3 linked regions of the Homo sapiens genome follow. The protein of the gene in region 3 interacts with the protein of the main gene of each other region in a pairwise test. Each region holds a gene or a part of one and is shown on either strand. Other genes may lie near its edges.

Region 1 (3,500 bases), on a different chromosome or scaffold from region 3:
CCTGGGCTCCAGCCATCTCCCACCTCGGTCTCCCAAGTAGCTGGGATGGCAGGCACATGGCCATGATCAGCTATTTTTTTTTTTTTTAATTTATTTAGTGGAGACAGGGTCTCACTATGTTGCAGGCTGGTGTCAAATGATCCTCCCACCTTAGCCTGCCAAAGTGCTGGGATTACAGGCATGAGCCACTGCACCTAGCCCCATTACCCCATTAATGTCCTTTGATGGAAAAGTAAAGTGAAGGTCAGAGAAGAAAAGTGACCTGCCTAAGATTAGCAAATAACAGGGATGGTCTGTGTGATTCCAAAACCCTGGTTCATTGTGCTGCATCCCACCATATAAAAGGCATGCAGGCTGAAAGAGATTTCCTTTTTCTGTTGTTTTATTCACTCCTCAACCTCTACTTCCTAACACTCTTCTTTTTCCCTTTCCATACACCCACAATGACCTGAAACACTTTTGGCTTACTTTTTTATTTTGCATGCTTTAAGGATTCTTTTTAATACACAGGTATTTCTCCATAACAGTTTATACGCATTTGTATATAAGCATACACTACAAAATGATTAATTGAGCGTTGTATGTTTTTATCAAAGGAAACAATGCAAAGATTTCTCCAAAGTGCTGTTTGACTAGAGATGATTAATTTTAATTTTCACATGAGCGGTATAATGCTATTAATCATTTAATATGTTTAATCATAATCTCTGTAATTCCTAATTAGGTTCATTAAACTGAAACATCCAGCAGTTATACACAAATCCAAATCTATGTTTCCTTCTCAGGATAAGAAGGAGCTCATTTTGTTTTTGCATTGAAACGGGAACTTCTAACAGGATGGAAGAGAATGGACTGGAAGCTTAGGGTTTCAGCTACAGCATCTGTAAACTCCGAGTCTGGGTGTAGAGTACTAAAACCCCTTAACTTCTGAAAAGTGACAGTTGCAGGATTCGAGCTCATTTCTGTGTCATGGACGTGGCACCAAACCTCGTATTCTCAGCGGAGAAAACGCAAATTCTGCTCTGTTTGGGTTTCAGTGTTACAGTGTTGCTCTTCGACTATCACATGAAGGCGGCGACATTGATTGTACACTTCTTCATGCATTTGTTTATTCGTGTACTAATAATTCATTCGGTCAGTGAGTGAGCCAACTGTTAAACAGACATTTATCATTTGTGTTACAAGCTGGTCATACCACACTCCTGCTGTGACCCTTAGGTGGCTCCTTATTGCTCTTAGGATGAAGCTCAGACTCTTGCTTTGCACAGTGTCCTTTGATCTAGCCCCTTGACTATCTTTGAAACCTGTCCTCCTGCCTTCCCTTCATACATGCCTCATCTGACCAGTGGTGCTGGAGTCCACACATACTCTCCTGAATCCAAGACATCATTTCACATCTCTGCACATCTGCACATGCACTGCCCTGTCTTGGAATAGCCTCAGTCCTTTTCACCTCTTCTCTTAGACATCTCCCACTTAACGTTTAACCTCCAGAATTGGCAAGCCTGGCTGAACCTCCAGCAGTGTCATATGACCTTGATTTAAGGTTACTCAGCCCTTTGTGATTGCCTCTTATCCCAACATTTACCAGTCTCTGGGGATGGTGGCTCACGCCTGTAGTCCCAGTGCTTTGGGAGGCAGAGGCAGAGGCAGGAGGATCACTTGAGGCCAGAGGTTCAAGACCAGCCTGGGCAACTTAGTGTGACCCAGGCTCTGCAAATAAAAATTAGCTGGGTATAATGGCTCATGCCTGTAATCCTAGCTACTTGGAAGGCTGATGTGGCAAGATTGAGCCCAGGATTTCAAGGCTTCAGTGAGCCGTGATTGTGCCATGGCATTCCAGCCTGAGTGACAGAGCAAGACCCAACTCCAAGAAAACAACAACAAAAGACAATGACAAAATGATTCTATTTATGATTGTTTTTCTCTATTGGTGTCATGCACTAAAGTTGGAATTGCATGTGACAAGGAGGGCTGATTTATGTGTCCAACACAAAGCAGTTGCTCAGTAAAGATGTGTAAACACTTTAAAAATAAGCAAATGAAAACCTTTCCTTCGTGTTTCTCAAAGGAGGTTTATTTCTCTTTTTGGTATTTAAAAAACTTGCCATCATTCTAAACATTTCGTCACTTTCCATTTATTGAATACATACCAGGAACTTGGCCAAGTTAGCACACATTAATCAATCACAAAGCCTCAAAAGGTATGAACTCATTATTCTTTATTTACCAGTTAAGAAAATGACCACTGTACTGCTTCCTATTCAATCCAACAGTATAGGCAAAATGACTAAATACATTGTCTAAATACATGACTTGCACTTAAAAGCTGAAGTCAACTGGTAGGTCTTTTGATACCAGAGCATCTTGGAAGAATGGTTTGCCAGCTAACAAGATGTCTTTATTTCAAAATGCGATTCAGGGTGTGTTAGGAAGGAAAATGCAAATGAAACCTTCCAGTACATACCAGGGCTGATGAGAAACTTGCTAATTATGCCCATGTTATCTGAGTGTTTGTTTTGTATTTCACTTTGTAAGATTGTCTTCTCTCGGTCGTTATTATTTTACACCTGGCTGCCTACATTGATAGTTTTGTCCCAATTATGTACTTCTAGATTGCTTATAAACAGGTCAGGATGATTCCTCACTCATAAATTTGATAGGCTTCTGTGTAAGCTTTCTATCATAGTTTCAAAGTTGGTATCTGATGTGGATGGCATTTACTGCCAGCTGGAGGCAATAGTTGCTAATTGCAGAGAAGTATCAAATGCTAAATGTCTGAAATGTTAAAACTCTAGAACCGAGAGTATGGCAGTGGCTATAATGATACCTAATGTGACTGTGACTTTTCCCCTCGTTCCTGCCAAATATGTGGGTGTCAATGTAACGTCATGTTATACAGCCTTATTTGGAAGACAGGGGAGGTGAAACAATCAGTTATGCTGATGATGTTACATGGTCTAGGCAAACAGAGCACAACAGCACTTTCTGCAGAGATGGAAACGTTCTGTATTTGCATTATTCAGTATGGAAGCAATAACTACATGTGGTTCTTGAGCGCTTGAAATGCAGCTAATGCAAACAAAGTTAAATATCTTGTTTTAATTCAGTTAAATGTAAATTGTCACATGTGGTCAACTGTAGTGGACAGCAAAAGTTTGTACAATTAGAACCTCAAAAGAATAAGTCAATCAGCTGGTTATTTGAACTCCAGAATGCCAACTAGTCTTTTCACATTTTTTACATTTAATTATGTTTTATCTGCACAATTACCTGAACAATTATGTAGGCATATCTTCAGATTCTGAACAGCGTCGGTTAAGAAATACACACTGTCCTGCCTTTAAAGATTATTACCCCCTTCTTGATGAGGTTCTCGCTCCCCACCTCCCAACCCCAGCAGCTCCCAGTCCCCTTCCTTTGCTTTTTCTAGCCTATAGTGCTTTTCTCTGTCTGCCAACACTCTATCTATGGATTTATTGTCTGTGTTGCCCTCATGA
Region 2 (3,500 bases), on a different chromosome or scaffold from region 3:
TCTTAAGTCCGCCAATGGATGAATGGATAAAGAAAATGTGGTATGTATACATAATGGAATATTATTCAGCCATAAAAAAGAATGAAATCCAGTCAGTTGCAACGACATGGATGGAAGTGAAGGATATTAAGTGATATAAGACAGGCACGGAAAGACAAATATCCCATGTACTCACTCATATGTGGGAGCTAAAAAATAAATAAATAATCTCATGGATATAGAGAGTAAAATAACAATTACTAGAGGCTGGGAAAGGAAGTGGAGAGAAGGGATAAAGAGAGGTTGGTCAATGTACAAAAATACAATTAGAAGGAATAAGTTCTCGTGTTCAGTAGCACAACACAGTGACTAAACAGTAATGTATTGTATATTTCAAAATAACTACAAGGGTAGTATTAGAATGTTACTAACTCAAAGAAACAAACGCTTAAGGCGATGGACATCCCAACAACCCTGATTTGATCATTATACACTGTATGCTTATATCACAATATCACATGTACCCCATAAAGATGTGCAACTATTACATATCCATAAAATTTAAAATTAAAAAAAGATACAATTCTATTGCAAGAATAAGGAAGAAAATAAAAAAACTAAACCTATATCCACCATCATAGAAAATTAATGTTAATTTAAGCTTGAAAAATCACCAAATAGCAATACAGAATTCATATTTAGAAATATAAATAAAACTATAGAATAATCAGCTGAAAGACTTGAAAGTGTTTGCTTCTTCAGGGTGGCACTAGAAGGAAAGAGAAGCACAAGGTGCTATTGTATATTGTGGTAAGTTTTCAGTGCAATGCAGTTTATGTCCATGTTTGATTTCAAAATCATCCCCCTCTCTCCTTTGCTCTGCTGTGTATGGGACAACCATACAGAGCTGATCTCTGCAAACAGCATTTCCCAGGATCCCTTGTGAATCCATTTCTGGCCCATTTCGGCCAATCAGAGGCACTGCCAGAAAATCGAAGACAAAGGAGAGAAGCCAAGGTATTTCTCCCCTTCTCTCTCTGCCCTGTTGCTATCTCTGGCATATTCTCCTCGAAGGCTCAAGTTCCCCGTTTACAGCAAGGCCTCTAAAGTTCTAGGTCAGGCTTGGTGGTTCCAGCTCTTGGGCTCCTGTCTTTGGAACTTAAGCCTAGGGACAGTGGCAACTTACAACACCAGATAATTTATCTTCCCCTGGTGGCTCCTTAAGGTCTTCTAACAGCTTTTTAAATTTTTTTCTTATATTAAATTTTCTAATTCAATACTAGTACTAATTTTTTTTTTTGAGCTGGGGTCTCACTCTGTCACCCAGGCTGGAGTGTAGTGGCCTGATCATGACTCACTGCAACCTTGACCTCCTGGGCTCAAGCGATCCTCCTGCCTCAGCCTCTCAAAGTGCTGATATTACAGGTATGAGCCACTGTGCCCCTGCCACTAATACTAATTCTAATGTAATACAACAGTTTTGATTTTCTAAATGGGCCTAATATAAGTAACTATTTGATATTTTCAGATACAGGTGTCAGAAAATATTGACAAAGATTCTCTCATTGATCAAACTCCACTCGAGCTATTCCATGTTCTTTTTCAACTATTCCTCAACTTTTGGACTTCCTTGTTTGTCTCTACGTTGTCCAATTTTAGCAAGAGTCCTACTAAGTCAAGTCAGCCATTCTCCTTATCTGATCATCCTCATATCTGATTAGGTTCCTCATCCTTCACCATCCTCCAGGTGATGTCTGATCACCCTGGCCTGCCTTCAACAAGAATCCTGTTAGGTCAGTTTGGCCAGAATCCTCTCTTATTCCTAATGTTGCCCCCTAGTAATTTTCCATCCACCAACCACACCCACATCCTTGTCTATAAATTCCCGCTTTTACTTGTAGTATATAGAGTAGAGCCCAATCTCTCTCCCCAACTGCAAGACTCCATTGCAGTGCTCCCTGTACCTATCTGTAACAAGTGTCTTCCTTACCATCTTTAACAATTGTCATGAATAATTTTTTCCTTAACAGCATAAATTTCTAAAAGTTTAAATACATAAATATATTTCACAATGCTTAAGAAATTCTTAAAGAAAAAAATTAGAAAACTGGCAGAATCACTTCAAAGGATCTTATATTCTCCTAACTGTTTACTTTGAATGAAATTCTCAGAAGTTCACTTATGGCTTGTTAAAAGCAACTGCATTACCCTACAACACTGCAAATATGAAATAAGTAAAATATTATATCCCCAAATAAAAGAGTAGAACTTACTTTTTCTAAGAATTTATATTTGTCAAACTGCATTTGTGTTTTTAACTCCAATGTAAATAAGTACTTCAGTAGCAGATCTACTGAATATCTCAATACAATTTGATAGATCACTGCTTTTTCCTAAAAGAGTTAATAGTGCAGCTAAAAGGAAAAACTCAGCAATTTCCCTCTTTTTTAGTATATATTTAATTTTCATAAATAATTTTTTAAACCATATAGAAGAGCATACAAGGAAAACCAAGTCTCCCCCATATCAATTATATTCCCCATAGGCAACCAATACCAATGTCTTATGCGTCCCTTCAGAATTCATTTGTGCAGTTATAAACATATATCCACATTTGCCTGTAAAATAAGGATAATTACAACATTTACTGTTATTAAAATTTCTGTAAGGCTTAAATAAGAAAAAACAAAATGTTTAACTTTATTAAGTGCTTAATATCAGTTATTAATACTTTCCAATAAAATATTTTAAAATAAAAAACTTAAATTTGAACTTTAAAATGAACCAGAAGTTTTGAGAAAGAGAGAGAGACAGAAAGAAAAGAAAAGAAAGGAAATAAGTCACTGCTGTTTTCTTATGAGTCAGTGCTTTACCAGCAATAATTTTATCCTAAAAGGCAAGATTCCAGGGCCACTCTCCTTCATTACCCTAGACAAGACTATCAAACTATCTTTTCTCCTTCCAAAACTTAAGCCCAATACATAATTAGTTAGGTAATCTTCACCATGCTATATAAATTATTTAACAGGTGTTTTCCCCCAAAAGGGGATGACACTATATGGAATTTGTTCAAATTCTAACATCCAATAACTTTATCAGGCTACTAGAATGGTCTGGGTAAATGATAATGGCATCTTAAACCTGATTCATTATACCTATTATGGGTTGAATTGTGTCTCCCAAAAACATATGTCCAAGTCCCAGACCTATGAATGTCAATGTATTTGGCAACAGGGTATTTGAAAATGTTATCAGATTAAGATGAGGTCACTGGGGTGGACCCTAATCCAATGTGACTGGTAGCAGTCATTATAAGAAGAGAAAGAGAGAGAATGATGACAGAGGCAGAGGCTGGAAGGATGAAGCTGCAAGTCAAGGAACACCAAAGATGAACAGCCACTGCCAGAAGTTAGGAAGGGGCAAGGAAAGATTCTATTCAGAGCCCTCAGTTGGAACCAATCCTGCTGACACCTGGATTTTGGACTTCTAGTTCCAGAACTGTGAGAGAATAAATTTCTGTC
Region 3 (4,074 bases):
ATCCATCACATTATCTTTGTTATTATACAGCTGGAAGACAGGAGTGTAGCCCCAAAAAGAGTAACGGTAAACTTTTTAAGGAAGGGTTGCCTGCCTCTTGCTTTCCTTTTCTGCACCTGGGTCCAACAGGGTGGTTTGTGTGCTGTGCGAATCTACATATTATGCACTTGATTTGATTCACCAGGCTCCTCTCTTCTCCTGCATTTCAGGCCTCTGGAGACAGGTATGCCACACAACAGGAATTTTCTGGAGTTGAATCTAGTCTCAAGGTGGAAGAATTTTCAGAATGACCCAATATTTTCTGCGACTTGGTGTTTCTAGGATCTTTGTGAGCTAGGACCCTAAGCAAGGAGCAACTGACTGTGTACTCGCTGGAGCCGCCTCCCGCACAGCTTCGAATCGGAGGATTGTTTACTCCCAGTCATTCTAAGAGCCGAGTAGGGGAGTCGCGGGGAGTAAGCCGGAGTTAACCGTGGTCTGCGTGCTCTCAGGGGCACGGGTCTCTCCTGAGGACTGACGGAAACTTGACACGTGCCAGCCTTCTCCCTCCCAACTTGCCGAACTTTGCCTGGGAAACCTCAGTCAAAACAGGAGCCGCCGAACCTGCACTGGCGGCTGGGAGCGAGCGCCCCCTCCTGCCAAGGGGCGTGGGGGCAACATGCCCTCGCGGAGACTCCCCTCGTGGTTTCGCCCTTCCTGGCACTCCATATATTTGGGTATGCATATGTTTTCGAGGCTTGGATAAAAGGGTAGATCTTAGAGAAAAATGAGAGAGGCCAGGCGGAGCTGCGTCCAGTGGTGGTGATGGGGGAGAAAACACTGGATACTTTGTGACAACCCCCCTCCCTTACCCTCTCCACGCTGGCGCGGCTGGGGCGGGGACCCCTCGCTCTCGGCTCGTCTCTCCCCCTTCCACGCTGGGATGGAGAGAGAGTGCAGGGGCTCCAGAGGCGCGACTGCAAGCCGCGGCGCCCCCGCTCGCTCGCTCGCTCGCTCGCTCGTTCTTCCACCTCCTCGTCGCCACCGCCACTCGGCTAAGCTCTCGGAGCGCGCTCCGGCTGCGCAGAGAGCGCCCCGGAGGGAGCCGCGAGGCCGGGGCGAGGGGCTCACGGCCCGGCGGCGGCGGCCGGGGAGCTAGCAGGTGAGCGGTGCCGCGGGGCGCCGGGCGGGCGCGGGGGGCGGCGGGGCGGGGGGCCGCGGGAGGAGGCGGGTCCGCGCGGGTGGCGGTCTCCTCCCCCTACTCTGACGCGGGGCCGGTGGCTCCCGGGGAGGATGGACCCAGCTCGGCGCTCGCCCGGGCTTCCCCGGGCTGCAGAGCGCGCCTGAGTGCCGCCGCCCGCCGGGCATGGGGAGCCGCTTCCTGGGCGGCTGCGGCAGCGGAGGAGGATGCTCTGGGCTAGGCGAGGTGAGGCGCGGCGGGGGCGCGCGGCAACCCTTGAGTTCAGCGCCGCAGGTGCCCCGCGAGGACAGGGCGCCGGGGAGCCAGGAGGCTTCGCTGGAGCCCCGGGGCGCGGAGGAGGGCTCCTGGGACGCGCCACTCAGCAGTTTGGCTAGGGGTGCTGGGAGGATGGCGACTGCAGCAGTTTTTCGCCTTCTCCCTCCACTTGCTGGGAGGAAAAGGGCGACTTCTCTTTCTCTGTCCTGCCCCCCATCCCCGCGCCCCTGTCTCCCTACTTCCGACCACGCGCGATCCTGTCTCCAGACTTGTCCACCCCTGACACGCGTCTCTCTCCAAGACCCCCTGCGCCCTCTTTCCTCCTGCGGTCCTGGCTATATCGGACCTCGAGCCTGCCTTCTCCCGCTGTCCTGGGCTCCCGAAACTCCCTCCCTCCCTCGCTGGTGGCCAGACCCTTTTCCTCATTCGGCCGAACCCCGTTCTCACTTCCCTACTCCTCCGTAGCGCTGAGATTCGGCTTCGACCTCTCGAAAAACCGACTCTATCCCAGTAATCCCAGCCCTTTCGCGGGCACCGTGAGAACTGGATCCCGCGTTCCTCGGACCCCGGCCTTTCTTCGGATCCTCTGTGGACTCTGTTCTCTGCCGCTCGTCCCCCTCCATCCACTCCCCAGCACCCCCTCCCCCCACGCCCAGCTAGTCGCCTCCCCAGCCCGCCCCTCTTCCTTCTCTCTGCTCCAGACTCGACGCTCTGACTTGGATGCAGAGAGCTCAGTTTTTTTTTCTACCAAGGAAACTTTAAATCTCTGTGGTTCGGCTCATAAAGCAGGCACACAAGAGGGTGTCAACCGCCGAGAGAACCCAGAGGCAGGGAGTCCGAGATGGGGGGAGGTCGTGTCGCGGCGTCTGAAAGGGGCCACTGGGTGAGTGTACAAAGTAAATTTCAAAACCAGGGTGGCTGCTGCAGCCAGGACCCTGCCTCCGCTGGCTGCGTCCCGAGGAGTATTATTGTGACCCCTGGTGGGAGGGCGCATCTTTTCTCTGCACTTTTTAAGGCGCTTTTTCTTTTCTCTGTTTTTGTTTTTTGGTGGTGCTGGTGGGCCTGATGGGGGGCAGTGGGCACAAGGGATCGCTGCCTGGAGAGGCGGACGCCACTTGGCTGCTCCCAGACCCGCCAGACTGTGTACGTTTCACTCCGTGTGAACTACCCCCAACCCCCAACTGCATCGCACAAATCCTCATTGTTGGGGGTCTGCTGGGGCACTTCCGCTTAGGCTGGGAGAGTCTGAAGGAATGGCGTGGGGGTGGGGAGGCCGGGGGCGCTTGGCTACCGCTCCGCTCTTGGCGGCGGGCGGAGTGGAGAGCGCCGCGACGCGGGCATCTGTGCGCTCCGGTGTGTATGTGTCGCCGAGTCTGGGGTGCGCGCCCGCGTGGGTCGGTGTCTGCGTGTGCGTTTGGATGTCGGCGCACGCCTGTGTTTAGCTCCATTAGAAAGAGGGGCGATGTAGGGCTTGCGGTAGCGAGAGCGCCTTTCTCCGCCTGGGAGCTGGACGGGGGCGAGCCCGGGGGCGAGCCCTCCTGCGAGCTGGATGCTCCAGTGCAGCTCCTAGCCAGCCGGCGGGGACCGGGGCGAGAATCCGCGCCGTCGTTTCTTCCTCCTTCCTGCTCCCTTCCTGCTGGCCGGTTAAATACACTTTAACAGTGTTGATAGTTTTGAATAAAGGCTGTGTGGGGGTTCCACTACACTTTACAACACTTAACGTTTTCAAGTAATCATATCAATTAAATTAAAGGTGGCTTACGTTCAGAACCGCCTAATTATCCAGTTCACGTTGGTACATTTATGTGCCAATTATAGGTCTTTGGGAAATCCATAAAATTACAAACCATCCCCACCCCTTGAATTAGCACCCATTGTTTTTGTGATCTCCGTGATGAGTGATTCTGGATGGCACCGGAACTGCGCAGGCACTAAGATAGATGGGGGTTCGGAGATGTCAGAAGGAGTAGGCACCCCCCCCCGCCACCCCCCCCCCCGCCACCCCCCATCTCTTTCACTCCCTATCCTGACAAGGCTTGGTGACAATTCTGGGAACTGAAAGTGATCAAAGATTTTCTTGATTTCCTATTGAGAAGGGCACCTAATCAAAGCTGTATAAAAGTCAACTTCTAAGCAATCAGAAATTGTCTGCTGATGTCCTTGATTGAAACCCCAGCATTCAAATGGAATATTGAAGAACTCGCAGAAATGTCTTTTGAAGCGCTATTGTTCTTTTCCATACACAAAGGCTCTCTTAAAGGTTTAGGAAGTTCAAAATGCAGTGGTTTGAAAGGACTGACTTTGTAACTATTTGGCAACGCTGGGAGGATCCGCAGGGATGAGAAAAGAGGCCGAAGTGGGAAGTGCAAATATGTTGTGACCATCTTCTTGGGAACGGTGCTGCTATCAAGTAGGAATTCAATTCTACACATCGAGTTGGCAATTAAATCTCTTCCTAAAGCAGATTTAGAAGATGATTTTTAGTAGTTTTTATTTTTTAATGGTTTGCTTGAGGTCTGAATAGGCATATCTGAAACATTTAATCATGTTCATTGTATTCAACGATAAAATCTGAATAAAAATTACTTATTGTTGATGAAGCTCATCTCACAAGCTGTTTCACAGTATGTTTCATTTGC

What was found. Proteins that work in one complex are often made in the same cells at the same time.
Region 1: the proteins of DAB1 (region 3) and RBFOX1 interact in a two-hybrid assay, tested with the Homo sapiens proteins (one large-scale study listed by BioGRID and IntAct).
Region 2: the proteins of DAB1 (region 3) and USP53 interact in a two-hybrid assay, tested with the Homo sapiens proteins (one large-scale study listed by BioGRID).

Annotation. Positions count from the first base shown.
Region 1 is NC_000016.10:7,576,024-7,579,523, forward strand, and holds part of RBFOX1 (RNA binding protein fox-1 homolog 1), read left to right. Parts: intron 1-3,500. UniProt on the Homo sapiens protein: RNA-binding protein that regulates alternative splicing events by binding to 5'-UGCAUGU-3' elements. Regulates alternative splicing of tissue-specific exons and of differentially spliced exons during erythropoiesis.
Region 2 is NC_000004.12:119,219,213-119,222,712, reverse strand, and holds part of USP53 (ubiquitin carboxyl-terminal hydrolase 53), read right to left. Parts: intron 1-3,500. UniProt on the Homo sapiens protein: Deubiquitinase that mediates 'Lys-63'-linked deubiquitination of tight junction proteins, such as MARVELD2 and LSR, and which is involved in the survival of auditory hair cells and hearing.
Region 3 is NC_000001.11:57,421,261-57,425,334, reverse strand, and holds the start of DAB1 (disabled homolog 1), read left to right. Parts: upstream 1-1,274; 5' UTR 1,275-1,405; intron 1,406-2,222; exon of another isoform or gene 2,223-2,318; intron 2,319-4,074. UniProt on the Homo sapiens protein: Signaling adapter of the reelin-mediated signaling pathway, which regulates the migration and differentiation of postmitotic neurons during brain development.